Linked DNA regions of Homo sapiens. The protein of the gene in region 1 purifies or fractionates together with the protein of each later gene. This does not show direct contact. Each region holds a gene or a part of one and is shown in the gene's direction. Other genes may lie near its edges.

Region 1 (3,874 bases):
CTTGGTGGAAGAGTCTGAGGTCTTTGAATCTGTGTCTGCTTACAAGAACCTTCAGATTAAGCCAGGCATCAAGATTTTCCGCTTTGTAGCCCCTCTCTACTACATAAACAAAGAATGCTTTAAATCTGCTTTATACAAACAAACTGTCAACCCAATCTTAATAAAGGTGGCTTGGAAGAAGGCAGCAAAGAGAAAGATCAAAGAAAAAGTAGTGACTCTTGGTGGAATCCAGGATGAAATGTCAGTGCAACTTTCCCATGATCCCTTGGAGCTGCATACTATAGTGATTGACTGCAGTGCAATTCAATTTTTAGATACAGCAGGGATCCACACACTGAAAGAAGTTCGCAGAGATTATGAAGCCATTGGAATCCAGGTTCTGCTGGCTCAGTGCAATCCCACTGTGAGGGATTCCCTAACCAACGGAGAATATTGCAAAAAGGAAGAAGAAAACCTTCTCTTCTATAGTGTGTATGAAGCGATGGCTTTTGCAGAAGTATCTAAAAATCAGAAAGGAGTATGTGTTCCCAATGGTCTGAGTCTTAGTAGTGATTAATTGAGAAGGTAGATAGAAGAATGTCTAGCCAATAGGTTAAAATTTCAAGTGTCCAACATTTCCCAGTTCCACAGTGGGAAATTTTGCACACTTGAAATTTTAACCAAGTGGCTAGATATTATTCCTCCTTTGAAGCTAATGGCATTTGTATATACACACTGCAGCAGAGCTTGTAGCTGGACAGAGTCAAAAAGAAGAAAATACGGTTTCAGGCTTTCTTGCAGATATGAAGTATTCTTGGAATGCAATAAGTATGTATTGAACTGTACTGTAAAGTAGCTCCAAAACTTAATTACTCTCCTGTTTTAGGGGTTATACATTTGGACTGTGCATTCTCCAAGAGATGAAGCGGTGAAGTTGGGATTTACATTGGAAGTGCTGTAGACTTCTTTATGTGGCTCAGTGGAGAGAGGGAAAGAATGTTGCACCTGCTCTAGTACCATAGGTCAAGAGGCTTCTGGATCACAAAGTCATAACTAGACAGGTTTGTTCTTGTAGTTTTCTATCCCCAGTCTTTGCTCCCCAGATGGCAGTAGTTTTTAGTAGGAAAGTGCCATTCCTGTCCTTAAGGCACAGTCTCATCAGAAGTCTAATACCTGGGCAGGTTTATAACATCCTGAGAGCCAGCCTGACATTAGACAGAATACCCTTTGTAATACATTGGAAATTTTTACTCATGCCTTTTTGTTTAGGATAAATAGGTAAGCACAAAGAGCTCTTCAAAATCAGAAAAAACAATAGGAGTCCTTCCTTGTCTTTTCTGTGATCTCTGTCCTTGTTTCTGAGACTTTCTCTACCATTAAGCTCTATTTTAGCTTTCAGTTATTCTAGTTTGTTTCCCATGGAATCTGTCCTAAACTGGTGTTTTTGTCAGTGACAGTCTTGCCAGTCAGCAATTTCTAACAGCATTTTAAATGAGTTTGATGTACAGTAAATATTGATGACAATGACAGCTTTTAACTCTTCAAGTCACCTAAAGCTATTATGCAGGAGGATTTAGAAGTCACATTCATAAAACCCAAGTGCTATGGGTGTATTATTCATGATAGCTGGCCCACAGGTCATGAATTGAGGAGGAATTTGCTTTCAAAAAGCAAGAATGTCCAACACTGAAAGTTTATAGTTTTATATTTGGACCTTGAAAGGTAAGAAAAAACCAGGTTCTCCAAAGTTAGGAATAGGGAACTAATTTATGAAACAGCCATCTTAAAAAAAAAAAAAGTAAACTGCAAAAGTACAAAATCATTTTTCAATCTGTTCCCAGTTTCTAAACAATTTTAAATATTTATGAGAAGCAAACCCTATGTGTAGGGCATCTGTTGGAGTGGGATGCTTTTAGACATATATTAAGTATGTACATGTTTAATATGTATATTTAAAATGCATATATATTTTATTATATCTATATTATCCTATATAGATATATGTAACTTAGCTTTATTGTTAGCTCCATAAGCTGCCAGTGTTGCTTTTCTGTTGGTAGAGCTCTCCCATTTGGTGACATGGAAAATACCTTTCCATTATCACAACAAAGCAGTTGCTCAGTAGAAAGTCTAGATTTCTGTCTTATAGGTGATTTCTGTCTTATAGGTGATTATAATCAAGTGTAGGCTTCCTGAATTTTGACATCCTTTTAGAACTTGGGTCTGGAATTCCAGAAATGTTAATTGCTGCTTGTATTTGTTCTTGTTTGTTTTTTAGCCAGTATTTGCCCTTTCTATCCAGCCTTATGAATAATAGCAGTAAAATCACAGTATCTTGGTCAGTCTTTATTTTTTTCCTTTTTTCTTTTTTAAGAGACAGTCATCCAGGCCAGAGTGCAGTTTGATGATAGCTTACTGAAGCTTCCCACTCCTGGGCTCAAGTTATCCTTCCATTTTGGCCTCCTGAGTAGCTAGACCATAGGTATGCATCACCACACCCTGCTAATTTTTTAAATTTTTTTCTAGAGAGAGGGTCTCACTGTGTTGCCCAGGCTGGTCTCAAACTCCAGGCTCAAGCAATCCTTCAGCCTCAGCCTCCCAGAGTGTTGGGATTACAGGCGTGAGCCACTGCACTTGGCCAAGTTATTTATTTTTAATCTCTCTTGCCCTTCTCCCAAGGCAGGCTTAAGTTGAGACTATTATAGGTGTCTAATAACCTGTGACAGAGTAATGAGTACATGCTTAAGATGTTATAATTAGCCAACACCAACACAGCAAAAAATATAATTCCAGCCAAAGATTCTGGAAAATCCCTCAGAAGGAGGGATAACAGGATTTGACCTTTACCAGCGATTTCTGTCCATATGTGGATGTAAACAGTTCTGGAACGTTATGCATGCAGTTAGCGAATCCTTGAATTATGTTCTGGTTTGTACTTGTCCCATCCATCCAAACAAGAGATTCTGCTTTTGGTAGCCATCTGTAGAAACATTTAAGATGTCACTAGAATTTACATTTCATCCTCTCTACTTGGGTTGAGGTTGCCTATACTTGCATATTGTTAAAATGTTTTGGTTGCTGATATTCAGAGGAATGAAACCTGGAACCAAAGCCTAATTTGCCGATAAAAAAACTGTTTTCGGCCAGGTGCAGTGGCTCATGCCTGTAATCCCAGCACGTTGGGAGGCCGAGGCGGGTGGATCACCTGAAGTCAGGAGTTCGAGACCATCCTGGCTAACACTGTGAAACCCCGTCTCTACTAAAAATACAAAAAATTAGCGGGGCATGGTGGCACGCGCCTGTAGTCCCAGCTACTCAGGAGGCTGAGGCAGGAGAATTACTTGAACCCGGGAGGCGGAGGTTGCAGTAAGCAGAGATTGTGCCACTGGACTCCAGCCTGGGTGACAGAGCGAGACTCCGTCTCAAACAAACAAACAAAAAACTGTTTTCATTTGCTCTCTTGACCAAAGGATAGGACTTTAGTTCTTTAAGCATTATTTTAAACACTATATTGATACAAAAATATCTTGCTTACTCTAAACTTTAGAGTCTAAATGAAGCTTTTTCTCAGTACAAGATTCTGAGTATCATAAAATGGTTATTTAATTGAAACGTAGTGTGGTATACTCTTGATGGTTAGAACTCTTACAGCCTTATTTATTTTTAAGTTTGTTACAGCCAAAGGGTTGGAGTGTGCCAGTGCACAGGTAGACTAAGGAAAACATTATAGAGGAGTGAAGAGAACAGACCATTGAAAAGACTATTATCTGACCAGCGGAGGCAGAAAAGAGAGGAACCCAGTTGAATAGGATCCAATCCCTGGTTAGCCTCTACACAATAATAGGGAGACAAGGATTAGGAGCCATACCTCCCAGAGCAAGGTATCTTTCTAGAG
Region 2 (3,874 bases), on another chromosome or scaffold:
TACCAGAGCACCCTGGGGTGGCACACCAGTGTGTGCATTTCTCGGTTCTTAGGAGTGGAGGAACTTGGTTGCGCCTCATTCACCTCCCTTCCTGAATTTGGCTGTGTACTTCTGTTAAAAAGGGAAATGTATGGAATAATTTTTTATCCCCTTTAGCTTATAAATTCTCTTAAAAGTGAAGCTGTGGCAAGTAATACCTTGTCTATTCTATGAAAGAATTTCATTGTCTGAAGGCTCAAAGCATCAGAAAAGTGACCGGAGGCAGCAGCTGACTACATGGGAAACTGAGTAGCAGGCTCAGAGCCATTTCTGGAGTCTCAAGAGTGTCCTTTCTAGCAGGTTTTGTTGTAGGGACTTGCTCTTTGTTATTTTCCTTTGAACATGGCTGCCTACATTGCATAGACCAGTGCTTTCCAAGGCTTGGGGATAGAGGAACAGAGTATGGGTGTTGAAATTCATTGCCCTTAATTCTGAAAAACAGAACATTTTAATCAAGTGTGCTTCCTTTCCTATTACCCTTGGACCTAGTTTTCTTGGGAACATAGTCTTGAGTGTATATAGTAACTGGGTATCTGTGCCTTTTACTGAGTTCCAACATGGGGACCGGGAGGGTGAGCTGAAGATTGGGTGGGGACAGCTCCGTTCTTGCTGTTGAATAGAATCTGGCCTGTGCTGCCTGTTGGCTTAGAGCTGACGGCTCTGTGGATGATGGCAAGAAGTTACTTTCTTACATCCGTAGAATTCTGTCTCTAGCAGGCCCATGCCAAAATGATGGCATCTGAACCAGCACTGACGCTGGGGAGGCTCTGGAGGGGGCGAGGGATAAGGGATGTGGACCTAAGGGAAGGGATGGGGTGATTAACAGCCTCTAGGCTCAGTTAAGGGTCCTCTCTGCCTGGCTGGTGGGCACGGGAGCCTGTCTGAAATGGAATCACTTGAACTCTTCTGTAGTTGAGGGCCTGGGGAGTGTCAGTTTGCAGCTTGTTTCTTTCACTGCCTGCTATTGTTTGTTCTTGGCAGACCTATTCATTAAGCTTTGTGCAGCTGTGTCCAGAATTAGCCAGGTCACAAAATATATCCAGACTTCTTTCCCTCGTCTTCCTCAGAAAGTGTTAATTAAGTAAATGCCATTCATTAATCGTCCCCAAGTAAATGCTATTCTTTAATCCTCCCCTCCCCAACAATCCCTAGTGAGCTAATAAGAAAAGTGATAGCAGTGGACGTTGGCTGAATGTTTATGGACATTCAGTATGTGCTAGGGAGTGTGCCAAGTGCTTTTTGCACATAAAACCTTCTTTGCGTTTGTGCTTTTAATCTCTCTTTTTTTTTTTTTTTTTTTTGGAGATGGAGTTTCACTGTTGTTGCCCAGGCTGGAGTGCAATGGTGCAATCTCGGCTCACTGCAACCTTCCACCTCCCAAGTTCAAGCGATTCTCTTGCCTCAGCCTCCCAAGTAGCTGGGATTACAGGCATGCACCACCAGGCTGACTAATTTTGTATTTTCATTAGAGATGAGGTTTCACCATGTTGGTCAGGTTGGTCTCAAACCCCTGACCTCAAGTGATCCACTCGCCTCGGCCTCCCAAAGTGCTAAGATTACAGGTGTGAGCCACTGCGCCCGGCCTGTGCTTTTAATCTTCAAAACAACCCTATGGGGTCAGTGGTGATTGTGTCCTCCCTTTTAAAGGTAAGACGGTATGTCTTAGGGAGATTTTGCAGCTTGCTCAGCAAGTCCCACAGACGATAAGGAGCAAAGCCAGGGCTTCAGTCCAGGCTGCGGGCGCTGCGACCCAGTGTCTTCAGTGCTGAGTCTGTTGCTGAGGCTTGAGATCCAAGGAGTATTGATGAGAACCTAGCGTAGCTTTAAAAGCAAAAGTGCATCCCACTGATACAGAGTTGCTGTCATTTGCTGGAGACCTTGATCACTGGAGAGTTCTCTGGAGGAACCAGGGAGAAAGCAAAGGGAATTTGTGATGCAAATATCTGAACAAAGCCAAAACCCTTGGAAAGTTAATGGACAAAAATATGCCTTTCTTTCCATCTGTTGTCAGTTTACTATGTTGCCTTCTAGGAGGTGAAGGAAACAGCCATTCCTGTTTCTTGTAGAGGAATTTTTAAATAGAGGGAGTCGGGGTGGAGTCTTCACGGCCTCAGTTTGTTTGTGACCCAGATGCTGCTCTCACCTGGCAGGGGCTGAATCATCGGTGTGGTTTTGGTTCGGAAAGAGATTGTTTGCACGTGTAGTGGGTATGTGTGAGGAGGCATGTGTTGTTTGGTGAAAGGCATCTTAAATGACTGCCCTGGGAAGGATTGTTTAAATGGAAATCCGAGGAGGTTCCTGCTCTGATAAATCCCTCAGTGGGTCCCGCTCATCTCTCGCCCTCCCCTTCCGGGTCCATATCCCCTCTGCATGTGCCACGAGGTTGGTTGCAGGGTGGTTAGAATATCTTTCTCCTCCAAGCTGAGAGCAGATGCCCTGGTGTGGCCTCTCTTGTATCTTTGCCACCTCTCATGGTGGCCACTGGGCAGTCAGTTCTCAGGATTTCATTGGTTCCATCAAATGGGTGGTGGTTTTATGAGTTTTCAGCTTGAGTAATAAATGCTATTTATGGCATTGAAAAGTGTGATTTCTAGGAGAAGCACACAAAAAAAACTTGATCTTTTGGAAACAGATTGTCCTTTTTCTGTTCAGTTCCTTTCAATGGCTTCCTGTTGCATTTAGAATAAAATTGTATCTCTTTGCCCTGGTTTGGAAAGCTCTGAATGATCTGGTCCTTACCTACCTCCCCCACCTCAGCAAATAACACTGTGTCCTCCCTGCTAATGCCCACACCTGATCACATTGACCCTTTCTCTTTGTTTCTCAAACAAGCCAAACTTGTTTTTACCTTGAAACCTTTGCCCTGGTTTCCCCTGTGTCAGGCTTGGCCCTGTTCAGGTCTCAGCATGGTGTCCCATCCCGTTTTGTGCCTCTGCTAGCAGTTAGACCCTCCCGGCTGTGATATGCTGCTTTTTCCACGCGATGAGGGCTCCTGCCTGCCCGCCTGCTGTGCACCTGGCCCATGTCCGGTGCCAGGAAGTCACTCTTCCGGGGATGGAAGAGGAGAGCCTGGTGGAGGAACAGATACGAGCCCCTGCTCTGTGACTATCTTATTTTTTTCCCCCTTTTTCCATACACAGTGCATACTAGTGTGATCCCTTCTTACTCTGTGGCCCTTGTCCGGTGCCAGAAAGTAACTTCCCAGGATGGAAGAGGAGAGCCTGGTGGAGAAACAGACACAAGTCCCTGCTCTGTGACTATCTTATTTTACCCCCTTTTTCCACACACGGCACATGCTAGTGTGATCTCTTCTTACTCTGTAGGCCTTGGCCTGGGATTTTGTCCCTGAGGATTGCACAGTTAGAAACTAGTGGGACTGTATTGTGAAAGTCTGGATTGTGACATAGTCTCAGAGCATGGAACACAAGAATGGCATCGAGGGAGGCTCCCAGGCAGTCAGTAGAAGGGAAGAGGAGAATTAAAGGTGAGGGGAGCACTTTGGTCTGCATTTTCCAGTCTCTTCCTGCCCAGAGCCCGGGCCTCCACCTGTGCCTGAGATCCTGTTCCCCTTCCCACTCACAGACATTCCCTAAGCCACCCGATGTTCCCCAGTATAAACCAGGCCCCTCCAGGCCACACCCTGCTGGGTTATTCTCATCAGTGTTCCTGCTGTTTTCTCCTTTCCTGCAAAACACACACACACACACACACACCCTCCTCTCCTGCAAAAACACACATATTCCCTTCTCCCCTGAAACACACACATACACACACACACACACACACACACAGCCTCCCTTGACTCTTCTGCCCCCTCCAGGATTTCCTCATTTTT
Region 3 (4,596 bases), on another chromosome or scaffold:
GAAGAATCAAGGAGTCATTTGGAATCCAGAGAGTCACATTTCTTTTTCTTTCTTTCTTTCTTTCTTTCTTTCTTTCTTTCTTTCTTTCTTTCTTTCTTTCTTTCTTTCTTTCTTTCTTTCCTTCCTTCCTTCCTTCCTTCCTTCCTTCTTTCCTTCTTTCTTCTCCTTCCTTTTTTTTTTTTTTTTGACAGAATCTTGCTCTGTCACCCAGGCTAGAATGCAGTGGCACAATTTTGGCTCACCACAGCCTCTGACTCCCAGGTTCAAGAGATTCTTGTGCCTCAGCCTCCCCAGTAGCTGAGACTACAGGTGCCCGCCACCACGCCCAGCTAATTTTTATACTTTTAGTAGAGACAGGGTTTCCACCATGTTGGCCAGGCTGGTCTCGAACTCCAGCCTCACTCAGGTGATCCACCCGCCTCAGCCTCCCAAAGTGCTGCGATTATAGGCGTAAGCCACTGTGCCCAACTAACATTTCTTAGCCTAATGTTTGCATACTCCAGCTTTATCTCTTGGCAGCCCAAAGTAGATTCCTAGGTTCAACCAGAAGTTCCTTGAAAATTGTCAGACTTCATAGAAGTGTGGAGTTGGGAGTCATGGATCTAGTACTGTACTTCCACTTACTGGCAAACCCCTTGGGACAGAGTATTAAGTTTGACAGACTTGGGTTCAAATCCTGGCTCTGCCACTTAGACCATCTGTGGGAGCTTGTTACCTCTCTGAGCCTCAGTTTCTTCCAGATCTAGAAGGAGAATAATATTTATTTTGAAGGATTGTTGTCACAACTAACTTATAAGTGTATAAAATGCCTAATCTAGGTTTGGCACTTCATGGGTGTTTAATAGGTGGGAATTATAATTTGGAAGCACCGGAGTGGGTGGGATGATGATCTGGGCAATGTATTATTATTTGTTTACTATTACCAGATCCAGATATATGCAGGGGAAAGCCAGCTTAGAATTCAAAAAGCCACTTTACATAGCTACTTTTGTTAAATGGATGTCAAATAAATACATAATGATATTTGCAGTGTGACTTAATAAAGGCCTTCAGGGGGTTTTCCAGCTTTCACTGTTAGGATTTTTTCTGATAATAGTCCCATACTTTCCTACTCTGATGTGTCCTCACTCAGAAGCACTGTCTGGCTCTCCCCAAAGGGAGCTCGGGACAGTTTCCTGCCTGAGGTGTTCAGGTGAATTCTGTGCTCACTTTTCCTTTCTCTCTCCTTGTCTGTCTCTCTGACCCTGAGGTCTTATCTTGTCCTCTGGGAGGTATGTTAAGTGCTCTGCCAGGCTGCCTGTGCCTGGCCTGTTTTTTCTCACTGCCAGTACCTCTTGGATTCCAATTCCAAACATGGTATCCATCTGGGGTCACCCTTTCTTCCGGTGCCAAGAGAGAACACATTCCAAATGGAACACAAATGTGCCTCCCATGCTGGCTCTCCTCATTCTGCTTGGGAAAAACAGAGAGCAGGATGTGGCCGCATCATCCCACGCTGCTGGACTTTTCAGTCCTGTAGTGCTACTTTCCCTTGGGACTATTTAGGTTTTTCTGCTAAGAACCAAATTTGAAGACTCCCAAGAAACATGGAACCAAGGAAGCTTGCCAGAGCTCTGCAGGGAGAGCCAGAGCCTTGCTGAGACAGCGGGGGTGGTGGGGAGGAGAGAGGGGGGGAGAGGGGGAGAGAGAGAGAGAGAGAGAAAGAGGTTTTTAAATTCTCCATGAAGTGTACTATGTTCCATCATTCCTTCCCAAAGCCACCGGAAGCATTCCTTCTAGGAAAGGTGGAGTCGGTAGTGAGAAGCCGGAGGTGAGAAGACCCCTGAGCGGATGGATTCATTCATTTTCTGAATTTCCTATGTGAGGACAGTATTAGAGCCCAGTGAGGCTTTGAGAGGCCCCAAAGATGAGCGCCAACAGCAGCAGAGTGGGCCAGCTTCTCTTGCAGGGTTCAGCGTGCATTAGGTGGAAGCAGGATGTGGAAGGGGCTGTCTACCACCTAGCCAACTGCCTCTTACTCCTGGGCTTCATGGGGGGCAGTGGGGTGTATGGATGCTTCTATCTTTTTGGCTTCCTGAGTGCAGGTTACCTGTGCTGCGTGCTGTGGGGCTGGTTCAGTGCCTGTGGCCTGGACATTGTTCTTTGGAGCTTCCTGCTGGCTGTGGTCTGCCTGCTCCAGCTGGCACACCTGGTATACCGCCTGCGTGAGGACACCCTCCCTGAGGAGTTTGACCTCCTCTACAAGACGCTGTGCCTGCCCTTGCAGGTGCCCCTACAGACATACAAGGAGATTGTTCACTGCTGCGAGGAGCAGGTCTTAACTCTGGCCACTGAACAGACCTATGCTGTGGAGGGTGAGACACCCATCAACCGCCTGTCCCTGCTGCTCTCTGGCCGGTAAGCTACTCTATCCATTGCCCAGAATTTCTTTCCCCAGCCCACACTTCTCATTTCCTAGTGTGTCCCTTTCCATTTCATGTCCCTTTCCATTTCGTGTCCCCTTCCATTGAGGGAAGGATGTGACAAGTCAAACAAACCAAAATAGATTTTTCTAAGAGTGGGGTTGCTTCCTCTTTCTTGGCATTTTCCAAGAAGAAACCAGTTCATGAGGCATCTTGGTTGGCAAGAATGATTGTATGTGCACTTGCTGCTGGAAGGTGTGCAGTGCGTGTGTCTTGAGCCTGGGCCTTAAATAACCCCTCTACCATCACCACACACATATCAGTGTGTCATGCCTAAGCTGCAGCAATATCTCTGTAAGCTTTGAAAAACTAACATTTCAATAAGGTTAATCTGTTCCTTACTCAAATTCAACATTTGCTAAGCACCAACTGTATTCAGGGAACAATGCCAGAAATGGGAGGTCGGGATAGCGGGGTGGTTCTCATAACCCCTGTTCCCTGCCAAGGCATCAAGCAAACAGCCCCACTTGTGTTTGGGGTAGCTGTATGTAGCCAGGTAGGGAGAGTGAATACCCCTTGCCCACCTTTCCATTTCCAGTTGTTCTATTGAGGTTCTTGAAGACTAAGAAGTCAAGTACAGTACTGTAAATCTGAGGGCCCAACAATGGGAGAAGAGAAGTGATACACCTATCTCATCAAGGCTTTTGTGGAAGCACCGCCTCTTTTGGAGAAGGCTGACAGTCAGATATGGGCAGAAATGGTCTTAGTCAGGATCAGTGTATGCCCAGTCAACCTGGATGTGAATGTTGGGCATTGATTTCTTCTGAGAAAACATCACGGGGCTCTGTGCTACACACTTAGTAGGCAATTGTGGATTTTTTTATACTGCCCTAGTGGCTCTTGAGCCCCACAACCCCCACTCCACCAGCTTTCTTGAGACCAGGAGAATGTGATAGAAAAGGTAAGATGGCAATTAGAAGGCTCCAATTCCAAGAAAAAAAAAAAAAAAAAGCAAATCCAGATAATACTGCCAACCACACAATGGAGAAAAAAGTTTGACAATGATGCTAATGGTACTACAACTACCACTAATAGTAATAATACGTGTTTGTGTATTCATTTATAGAACCTGAAGTATCATGTATATATGTTTTGATTTTGTTTGAACTCAGAGGTCCTGGATAGAGTGAGCTAGGAGGGGAGACATTTTGTGAGGGTACATTTCATTTCATTTATTGGTGAACTGAAAGTGTAAACCAATGCGATTATTTGTAAACAGATATAGATGTAAATACAAATACATATAACTATTGTGAAAATGTTTGCACCTATAGTTCCATGCTTAAAGACAATTTAGGGAACTTGCTCATTCATGAGACCCATGATGTTATAGCTCGTCTGTTCAAAGGAGGAAATTGAGAGCAGCAGAAGTGCTCCCTCCAGTGTAGGGTGCCCATTTGCTGGAAGCATGTATGGTTACTGTATAGTTCAGTTAGGATAGATTTACTGTGAACTTGTATAAGATCACTTCCCAGTGAAGGGGAGAGGGGGGCTTGCCCTTGGTGTAGCTTTTCCTGGTATACTTAGCATCAAAAGGCTGAGTCAGAAATTAGACAATTTTGATTTTTTTTTTTCCTGCCTTTCAAGGTTTGGAGTAAGAGTTTTGTTATCTTTCAGTGTCACCCTGTCTCAGCTTTGCTGAGCTGGACATAGAGGAAAAGGCTTCTAGTCTATGACTGGGCTCTAGTTTTAAAGGAGAATCACTGAACCTTGGGCTGGTTACAGTAAGGGACCAAACATCTCAAAGCAGCAGACAAGAACTTTGTGCCAGGAAGTGGGGACTCTTGTGCAGACTTCCACATCTCACATGCACACTGTTCTCTAGAGTCCTTCACTCAAACCTCAGAAGTCTTTTTGTTTTGTTTTAATAAAGGAAACCAATCTCTTTCAAAACTCAGAGAGGGAAAGTGACTTTCTCAAAGTCTATCACCCTGTTAAGCAGCGCTTAACTTAGACGTTTCTCTCATATAAAATTCAAAACACAAACTTCCATATATACAACCCCCTGAGCAGGCAACTAACTATCTAAGCTATTCATTTAGGAGAAGATCATCCATCTTCCAGTAGATCAAGAAGGAAGAAGAAACAGATGATAAAGGGCACAGCATTCCGATTTAAATGGCTTCAGCGAGCC
Region 4 (3,874 bases), on another chromosome or scaffold:
TTGATTCCAGCAGAGGGTGACTGGTCTAAGTGGATGTCTCCTTCAGGCCCTGTGGCTATCGGCCTTCCCAACTTCCCAGCGTAAACAGACCCCGCACAGGCTGAGAGGCATTAAGAATGTATACAAGGACCCGAGGGCTGGCCCATCCAGATCTGTGCGGAATGCAGTCAGCTCTTTCTGTATGGGATGAGGTAATCCCCTGCTTTTGCTTGAGGGGACCTGTGATTTCTGTGCAGGGCCCGCTGGGGGTTCATTAGAGGCCTCCCTCCCTCTCTCCACTTTCAGATTTTGCAGGGAGCTTTGTCACCAGGCTTTTGAGAACCAGGGGCCCTGGGTACACATTTCATAGTTTGCTCTATGAAGCTTTTGTTCCTATCAGGGATTCTGAGAGTGTCACTTATTAAGATCTAAGCAGGTAATTTAGGAAGATTCTTTGCTCCAATAGTGGACGCACAACCATCAGTGAATGGTGGTCAATGAAAGTGGGCCCTGCCCACCCTAAACGTCCTGCACGCAGGCTGGGGCGGCCAGAGCCTTTGTCGCAGGCCACCTTCCATGTTACACGGCAGTTCCCTATTTTGAATAAGGGGATTGTCTTTGTCAAATAATAATCTGTTTGCTGGAGACAGCTCTTGTTTCTGAAACCTAATGCATGAAAAATACCGAAATGACAAAAGGGTAAGCTATAGTATGACATTTTTGTTTTTCTGTTTTTTGTTTTCTTTAGCTCCCATTTGAATTTGCAGAGGACTTGATGACTGCACTGTCTGCTTAATCTCCCTTTTCACTGTACTTTCCTTCCTATCTGACCCCTGGAACCTTTGGTGGTGGGAAGGGAGAGGCCCGTCCAGGCCCCGAGAGGAAAGCAGGTGGTCAGGGTGTGGGCCTCTGGCTTTGTTTCCTGGCCAGCCCCAGTGTGGGCTGCTGTTCCTTGGGCTGACTGGTGGTTAATGATTGAGGATCGGTGATCGGTGAGTGATGATAGGTGGCCGGTGATCGGTGGGGCAGTGAGGAGCTCCAGCCTCCGCTCTCTCATTCAGCCCTTGGGCAGCAACAGCCATGCCCTTGTTGGAAGTTTCCCACTGTGCCACCCGGGAGGGGAGAAGCAAGGACAGAGGCGAGGACGGCTGAGCGGGGAAGTGCCTATCTCAGAAATACTGTTTTTGACTCAGAGGACCAATGGTCCCTAAATCAAATTTTCGTCACCCAAAGAGGCAAAGGTAGAAAGCCAAGGGCTGGATGGGGGTCCCTGAGCCCTTTTCCACCTCTCAGTCCCACTCTGGGCTCTGAGAATACTGAAGGCTGCTGGTAGCTCAAAGCGGGTGAGTGTCTATTTTGTGCTAAGAGTGGAGGAACTGGAAGGAAGGACACACTCGAGATGTGGGAACCAGGCGTCTTCTCACTGAGTGACCCTGCCTCCTGCTGGGGCCTGTCCATGCTGAGCAGTGGCCAGGCGCCTGGCCAGCCGGCATCTGACATGTCTCTACACTGGAGGGCAAGTAAGACCTGAGCCAGAGGAATGTCACCATGGTGGGGGAGAGAGGTGGGGCGGATTCGGGATCCAAGTTCGGGCGAACAAAGACTGAGGGTCATTTCTTTCTAGCCCCTGTGAATGGCCCAAACCCCAGGATTTATGGCAGCTTCTGCTGTGTGGCTGTGCCAGTGGGGACAGAGCAGGGAGCCCAAGCCAGGCGCCAGCCGAGCTCCCTCTGGACCCAGCTGCTGTCCCTGCTGCTGCCCAGCTGTGGGGCGGTCCTCCATTCAAGCTCCTCTGCTCCCCGGGACTCTGGGGTCAGATGAGATCATGGGGGAAAGTGTTTTGGAAACCAAGCCATGATGCAAATGTGTTTCGTTTTAAGGAAATGGGAGAAAGGAACAAGGATTGTTGCAGTAGAGCCATGTGGGGAGAGCAAAGGTGAAATCCTTGTCTCCTGGCATCACGGGGTGGAGAGTGGAACGTCAGCTCTGGGTCATTTGGTGGCCAAGGAAAGATGGCGATAGTAGCTTCAAGGCACGGCCTGGGGTTGCCCGTCCACCCTGGAGGCAGTCTGGCAGGACAGGGTGTCCTCAGCTCCCTGCTGGGCCTACGTCCTTTTGGAGTTCTAGAGCTGCGTCTTAGGACAAGTGTGCCAAGCCTCCTGCTTTGAGTTTCTGTCCTGACCTTGACCTGGCTCACCTCCATGGGCAGCCTCCCATGCTTGGGCATCAGGGCTTGTCATAAGTCCGTGGTCACAGGGCTTGATTCCTCCTAGTGGGTGACTCTGAGGACGGCCAGGCCTCCCGCTGCAGGACCAGCGTGGTTCCCTCCATGGAAGGCTTTCAGAGTGTGGAGGGGATGCGGCTGTCTTGGGAGGCCCAGCCCTTTCTGTCAGCCGTGGAGGACACTGAGTCAGGTTAGGTCACGAGGAGGGGACCCCACAGTCATTTACATCCCGCAGAGGGAAGTGCCCAGAAGCCCGCAACAGTCTCCGCTAAGTGGGGTTCACGCCAGGTCCTCTGCTGTGAATGTGGAGGCTGTGGAGCCGAGGCCGCGAAATTTCTCACTTTTCAGGGATTCTGTTCAAGTTGTCCCAAAGGAGAAGCCCATCAAACAACCCAGTCTCTGTGCGAGCTCCCCCGGGGGCATTTACTACTCAGCCAGTGAGAGCCAGGTTTCCAGGGGAATAGAATTAAACAAGGTTCTGCTTTTTGCTGAAGGGAAAAACCGCTCCCTTAGGTGGGAGAATCCCCAGGGTTCTTTCTTCCTGGCCAGGGAGGGAGAAGGGGGTGACGTTTTATTGAGCATCGGCTAGGGCCAAGCTCTCAATTAGGCCCTTTCTTCTTTCTTCTTAGGGTATCTGTGAGATAGGTGCTGCTGTCCTGGGGAGGTAGATGCAGACAGATTAACTCTCAAGGTAAATGCTAATGAATAGAGGAGCCAGAATCCCAACCCAGGAATGTCTGATCTCGGAGTGGGCGGCTTCCCAGCTGTGGCTTTGCATACCGCTAGCGTAGCCACCCGGACCCTGATCCCCTGACCCTTGTCCTTGATCCTCCAGGAAATTCTCATATGTAACCTGGAATCCACTTTAAATGAACTCGGTAAATAATGTCTTGACTCTAGGCCAGTCATTACCTGGGACAGGTGAGGGGGAAGGGCAACCACCTGACTATGTCACTGTCAACAGTGCATCCTTGGGCTGAGGTTTTCATTTTACAGTGGGGTTCAGGCAGGGCTAATTGCTGACCCAGGACTGTGGCCTGGAGGGATTTCAGGGCCTTCCCATGGGCGGACTGACAGTAGAAGACAGCCCCTGTCAGTCTATCTGAAGAAATCAGTGCCAGATAACAATGGTACCCCGTGGCTGAATTCTGGCTGGGAGTGAAATGGTGATGGAGTGTTGGTCTCACCTCAGGTCAGCAGGGAAAACAGTTGGGAAAATGGTCAGCCCTCCTGAAATGCAGCAGGTGGTGATTTTTGTGTTTTGAGTCTTGGCACACCTTGCTGTTGAAGCAGTTGAACAAATAAAGGAATGGAAAAACAGGTGCTGACCCAAAGCTTGAGACAGCTGGTTGGTTGCCCTTCGTTGAAAACCACACGGCCAACCCAGAGTCTTCAGGTTTGGGGCGCAGTTAAGCTGTGGGGCACCCTGCGTAGGCTCACTGTGTTTCCAGAGGCTTTATGACTGCACACTGGGGCCGCCTGAGACCCAGGTTTATATGTGAATTTAGCAGACAAGTAAAAAGTGCTGAGTCACATTATAAATGCAAATTTGGAGGAGGATTTGAAATGCTTTCATTAAGACACCAAAGCAGGACACTTGTAATACAGCAGTGCCAGGAGAGGACAACCCTGCCATTCTTTGGGGACCTAGATAAAATGGCTCCACTGTCC
Region 5 (3,874 bases), on another chromosome or scaffold:
GACATGCAAACTTCCATAACTTGCTCTATAAGGCAAGGACCAGAATCCTTCAAGGTATTTTTTAGTAGAGATGGGGTTTCACCATGTTGGCTGGGCTGGTCTCAAACTCCTGACCTCAGGTGATCTGCTCACCTCGGCCTCCCAAAGTGCTGGGACTACAGGTGTGAGCCACCATGCCCTGCCGTATTGCCCACATTCTTAATGCAAGAAAATGCTAAATTTCAGTTAGAGATTAGTGAAAATAAAGATGTTATTTTTTCCCATCCTAGTTTACAGACCCCCCAGAAACCCACTCATGGATTCTCCCGAGTCTTTGGACCTGGCTCAGACACCCTTGCTTTGGATCAAGCCAATGCATGTATCCCCTAACACACCCATGCTTTATGTGGTCCCTGCCCCTCCCTGCTCAGGGGACTGCTTGTTAACTTCATTGGGTTGGGGACATATATATTATAGGAGAGAGACAGAGAAAAAGAAAGAGAGGAAATGTTATTCTCCTTGTCTGTATCTGTATCTCCACTCCGATTCCCATTCCCTCTGCTGCTCTCCTCTCTCTCCTCCCTTTTAACATCTCTCCCTCTCCCTGTGGCTTCTGTTGCCACCTTCCCTCTCCCTCACTGCCCAGGTGTGTGTTCCTGCCAGACAACGGCGCCTTCTTTGTCAACTACGTGATCACGGCAGCTTTACTTGGCACAGGCATGGAGCTGCTGCGTCTGGGGTCACTCTTCTGCTACAGCACCCGCCTCTTCTTCTCTAGATCAGAGCCAGAGAGAGTCAACATCAGAAAGGTACAGACTGGCTCTCCGCTGAGCACAGCCCTCAGTTTCCTTTGGGAGGGTGTCAGGGATAGAGCCTGCTAGAAGCACCAAGGGGGTTGAGGTGGGAGGGACGGTGTGGATGGGTGTTGGTGGGGCACCTTGGTCTACAGGGTTGGAAAGGAGGCTGCCTCCAGGCCTGAGCTGCCAGGAGGCTGATGAGGAGCCACAGAAGTAGTCAAGCCAAGGGGACTGGGCCACCTCAGGGTGACACCTGCCTTCTGCCCCAGAACCAGGCCATAGACTTCCAGTTTGGGCGTGAGTATGCGTGGATGATGAACGTGTTCAGCGTGGTGATGGCGTACAGCATCACTTGCCCCATCATTGTGCCTTTTGGTGAGTCATCTCCAAGGCATGCCCAAGGGCTGCACATCCGCAGATGGGGAGGAGGAATTGAGCCTCACAACATCAGTCCACCTCCTGGAGCATGGGGAGACCTGTGGTAGGGAGGGGTCAGGGCCAGGGCCAAGCTGGGGGTACAGGGCAGCTGAGGTTGGATGGCTGCCGATGGGGGATGTTTGTTGAATGAACGCATGAGAGAATGACTCTTCACCAAGCTGAAACAGTCAGTTCTCGGGGCTCAAGGGAAGCTGCTGGCTCCGGAGGTCAGTACCACGGAGCTCCCCCAACCCATCCTTGGTTGTTGTGACTCTGACAGCCGTGGATCTGGCTTCTCAGGCCTGTGGAGACACTGGAGCCACAAAGGTCCAGACTTGAAGGGGCCACTGAGTAAGTTTCCACCTTTGTCCCCCAGGGTTGCTCTACCTGTGCATGAAGCACTTGACGGATCGCTATAACATGTACTACTCCTTTGCACCCACCAAACTGAACGAGCAGATCCACATGGCTGCCGTCTCCCAGGCCATCTTTGCGCCACTCTTGGGTCTGTTCTGGATGCTGTTCTTCTCCATCCTGCGGTTGGGTAGGTACCAAGCCAGCCTGGAGACCCCACCTCCACCTGCCCCACTGTTCTGTGAGTCCCTTAACACTGACCCTGTTAGAGGAGAAAAGCCCAGGCAGGGCAAGACGCTGCTCACCAGACCTGGCCACACCCAGTGACTTCTCTGGGCCTAAAGGGCCTACATTAGAGTCTCAGCTGAGCTTCAAGGCTAAGAGGAGGCCCTGGACCAACATGGTCCCCAGGTGTGGATTTGGGTTTCCAGCGCTCAGGGAAGGAAACCTCATATTCCTTCTTTCTAAGTCTAGACGGGTGGAAAATAGAGTATCAGCTATTGGGAGGCTCAGTTCCCATGACATTTCCTCTGGGATCCCATAAGATGCCTGGTTTTTTGTTTTGTTTTTTAATTTTATTTTTTGAATCAGAATCTTGCTCTGTCGTCTAGACTGAAGTACAGTGGCGCGATCACGGCTCACTACAGCTTTGACCTCCTGGTCTCAAGCAATTCTGCCACTTCCCCCTCCCCAGTAGCTGGGACTACAGGCGTGAGCTGTCATGACTGGCTAATTGTTTTTAATTTTGTAGAGATGAGGTCTCACTATGTTGCCCAGTCTGGTCTGGAATTTCTGGGCTAAAGCGATCCCCTGGCCTAGGCCTCCCAAAGTGCTGGGATTATAAGCGTAAGCCGCCGGTGCCTAGTGGTAGATGCCTGGCTTTATGGGTTGCCAAAAAACCTGGAAGAGGAAACAGAGCCTGCAGTAGGGGCCAGCTTTTTCCTCACTCTTTAGCTACACACAGCTACTGCTCCTGCCCAGGGGAGCTCAGAGACACCCTCCCAGAAGCAGTCCCTGCAGGCCACAGATTAGAAATCTCTCAGCTTTCTCCCCGTTGGAGGCACCTTAACCCCCAGCAACCCCCAACCCCACTGCCCTTCCCTCAGACACCTGACCTTAACCTTCTCAGTGGTGGGAGAAGGGAGACGCGGTGTTTTCTTTCTTTTTTTTTTTTTTTCTTTTGTTTTTAGAGACGGAGTCTCGCTCTGTCGCCCAGGCTGGAGTGCAGTGGCCTGATCTCGACCCACTGCAACCTCCGCCTCCCGGGTTAAAGCTATTCTCCTGCCTCAGCCCCCTGAGTTGCTGGGACTACAGGCGGGTGCCACCACGCCCCGCTAATTTTTTGTATTTTAGTAGAGACAGGGTTTCACCATGTTGCCCAGGCTGGTCTCGAACTCCTGAGCTCAGGCAATCCGAGGCAGTGTTTTCTTTTCTCTCCCTGCCATGGTGGCATCCATACGGTCGACTCTCAGTCATTTATGTGGCTTACCCATTTGCCATCACCCCCAATTGCTTATCCCGCTAGCCTTTCCCTGCCACCCCAGAGACTTCATTTTTTCCATAATGCTTTTTTTCTAAGAATAAAGGACTGCATGTTTATCATCAAAAATAGAAAAAATATAAAGACCAACATGTAAATGACCCATCATCTTACCCAGAACCTGATGTCTTTTGTTCCCAGCCCCCTTTCCAGGCATGCGCTTTGGGGCTTTGGGCATGGGAACATTGAGAGGGAGCAGTTGGTCTATTGTTACTTTGCAAAACTGCGATAGTCCATATTGTAACATTCAGTCCTGTACCCTGAGGTTTTGTACTGAACACAATGTTCTGAGCAATTTCCTAGGTTGTTAAAAGACTGAACACGTAGGTGCCTTTCAGCGGTTGCATGAAAGTCTACCAGTTTTAGTCAGTTCTCCGTGATTGGATATTGAGGTTTGCCACTTTTTGCTACTATAAAAACACTGCAGTAAGCATCATTAAGCAGTGATTTTTGGCTGTAAAGCATAATTTAAACAACATTTACCTAGTTAGAAAACTGCTGCCGTAAAAAAGGGATCAAATATTCCCAAATGTAATGTAGGTGACTTTTACCTTCTAGATTCCCTCTCTGTGCCATCGGTGCAGATAACTGAGCATGCTCACTTCAAAAGGGCTTGCAGGGAAAGGTGTAGGTCAGAGATGGCGTTGGGGGCACTGGCAGAAATAGTCACTCAAAGATACTTCCCAGGGACGATGGTGTTGGAGGTGACCAGCAGGTCAGGAAGGACACATTTAATGGGCACTGCAGTGGGTACTGAAGTCAATTAAAACATTTTTTCATGGACTCC

What was found.
Region 2: the proteins of SLC26A2 (region 1) and CYB5A purify together in Homo sapiens (affinity purification with mass spectrometry; one large-scale study listed by BioGRID and IntAct). This does not show direct contact.
Region 3: the proteins of SLC26A2 (region 1) and POPDC2 purify together in Homo sapiens (co-immunoprecipitation; one large-scale study listed by IntAct). This does not show direct contact.
Region 4: the proteins of SLC26A2 (region 1) and ACKR3 purify together in Homo sapiens (co-immunoprecipitation; one large-scale study listed by IntAct). This does not show direct contact.
Region 5: the proteins of SLC26A2 (region 1) and TMEM63C fractionate together in Homo sapiens (co-fractionation; one large-scale study listed by BioGRID). This does not show direct contact.

What each region holds. Positions count from the first base shown.
Region 1 is NC_000005.10:149,981,258-149,985,131, forward strand, and holds part of SLC26A2 (sulfate transporter), read left to right. Parts: coding exon 1-556; 3' UTR 557-3,874. UniProt on the Homo sapiens protein: Sulfate transporter which mediates sulfate uptake into chondrocytes in order to maintain adequate sulfation of proteoglycans which is needed for cartilage development.
Region 2 is NC_000018.10:74,281,700-74,285,573, reverse strand, and holds part of CYB5A (cytochrome b5), read left to right. Parts: intron 1-3,874.
Region 3 is NC_000003.12:119,657,734-119,662,329, reverse strand, and holds the start of POPDC2 (popeye domain-containing protein 2), read left to right. Parts: upstream 1-1,740; 5' UTR 1,741-1,906; coding exon 1,907-2,397; intron 2,398-4,596. UniProt on the Homo sapiens protein: Important for the maintenance of cardiac function.
Region 4 is NC_000002.12:236,576,175-236,580,048, forward strand, and holds part of ACKR3 (atypical chemokine receptor 3), read left to right. Parts: intron 1-2,832; exon of another isoform or gene 2,833-2,894; intron 2,895-3,874. UniProt on the Homo sapiens protein: Atypical chemokine receptor that controls chemokine levels and localization via high-affinity chemokine binding that is uncoupled from classic ligand-driven signal transduction cascades, resulting instead in chemokine sequestration, degradation, or transcytosis.
Region 5 is NC_000014.9:77,247,722-77,251,595, forward strand, and holds part of TMEM63C (osmosensitive cation channel TMEM63C), read left to right. Parts: intron 1-625; coding exon 626-788; intron 789-1,045; coding exon 1,046-1,151; intron 1,152-1,569; coding exon 1,570-1,737; intron 1,738-3,874.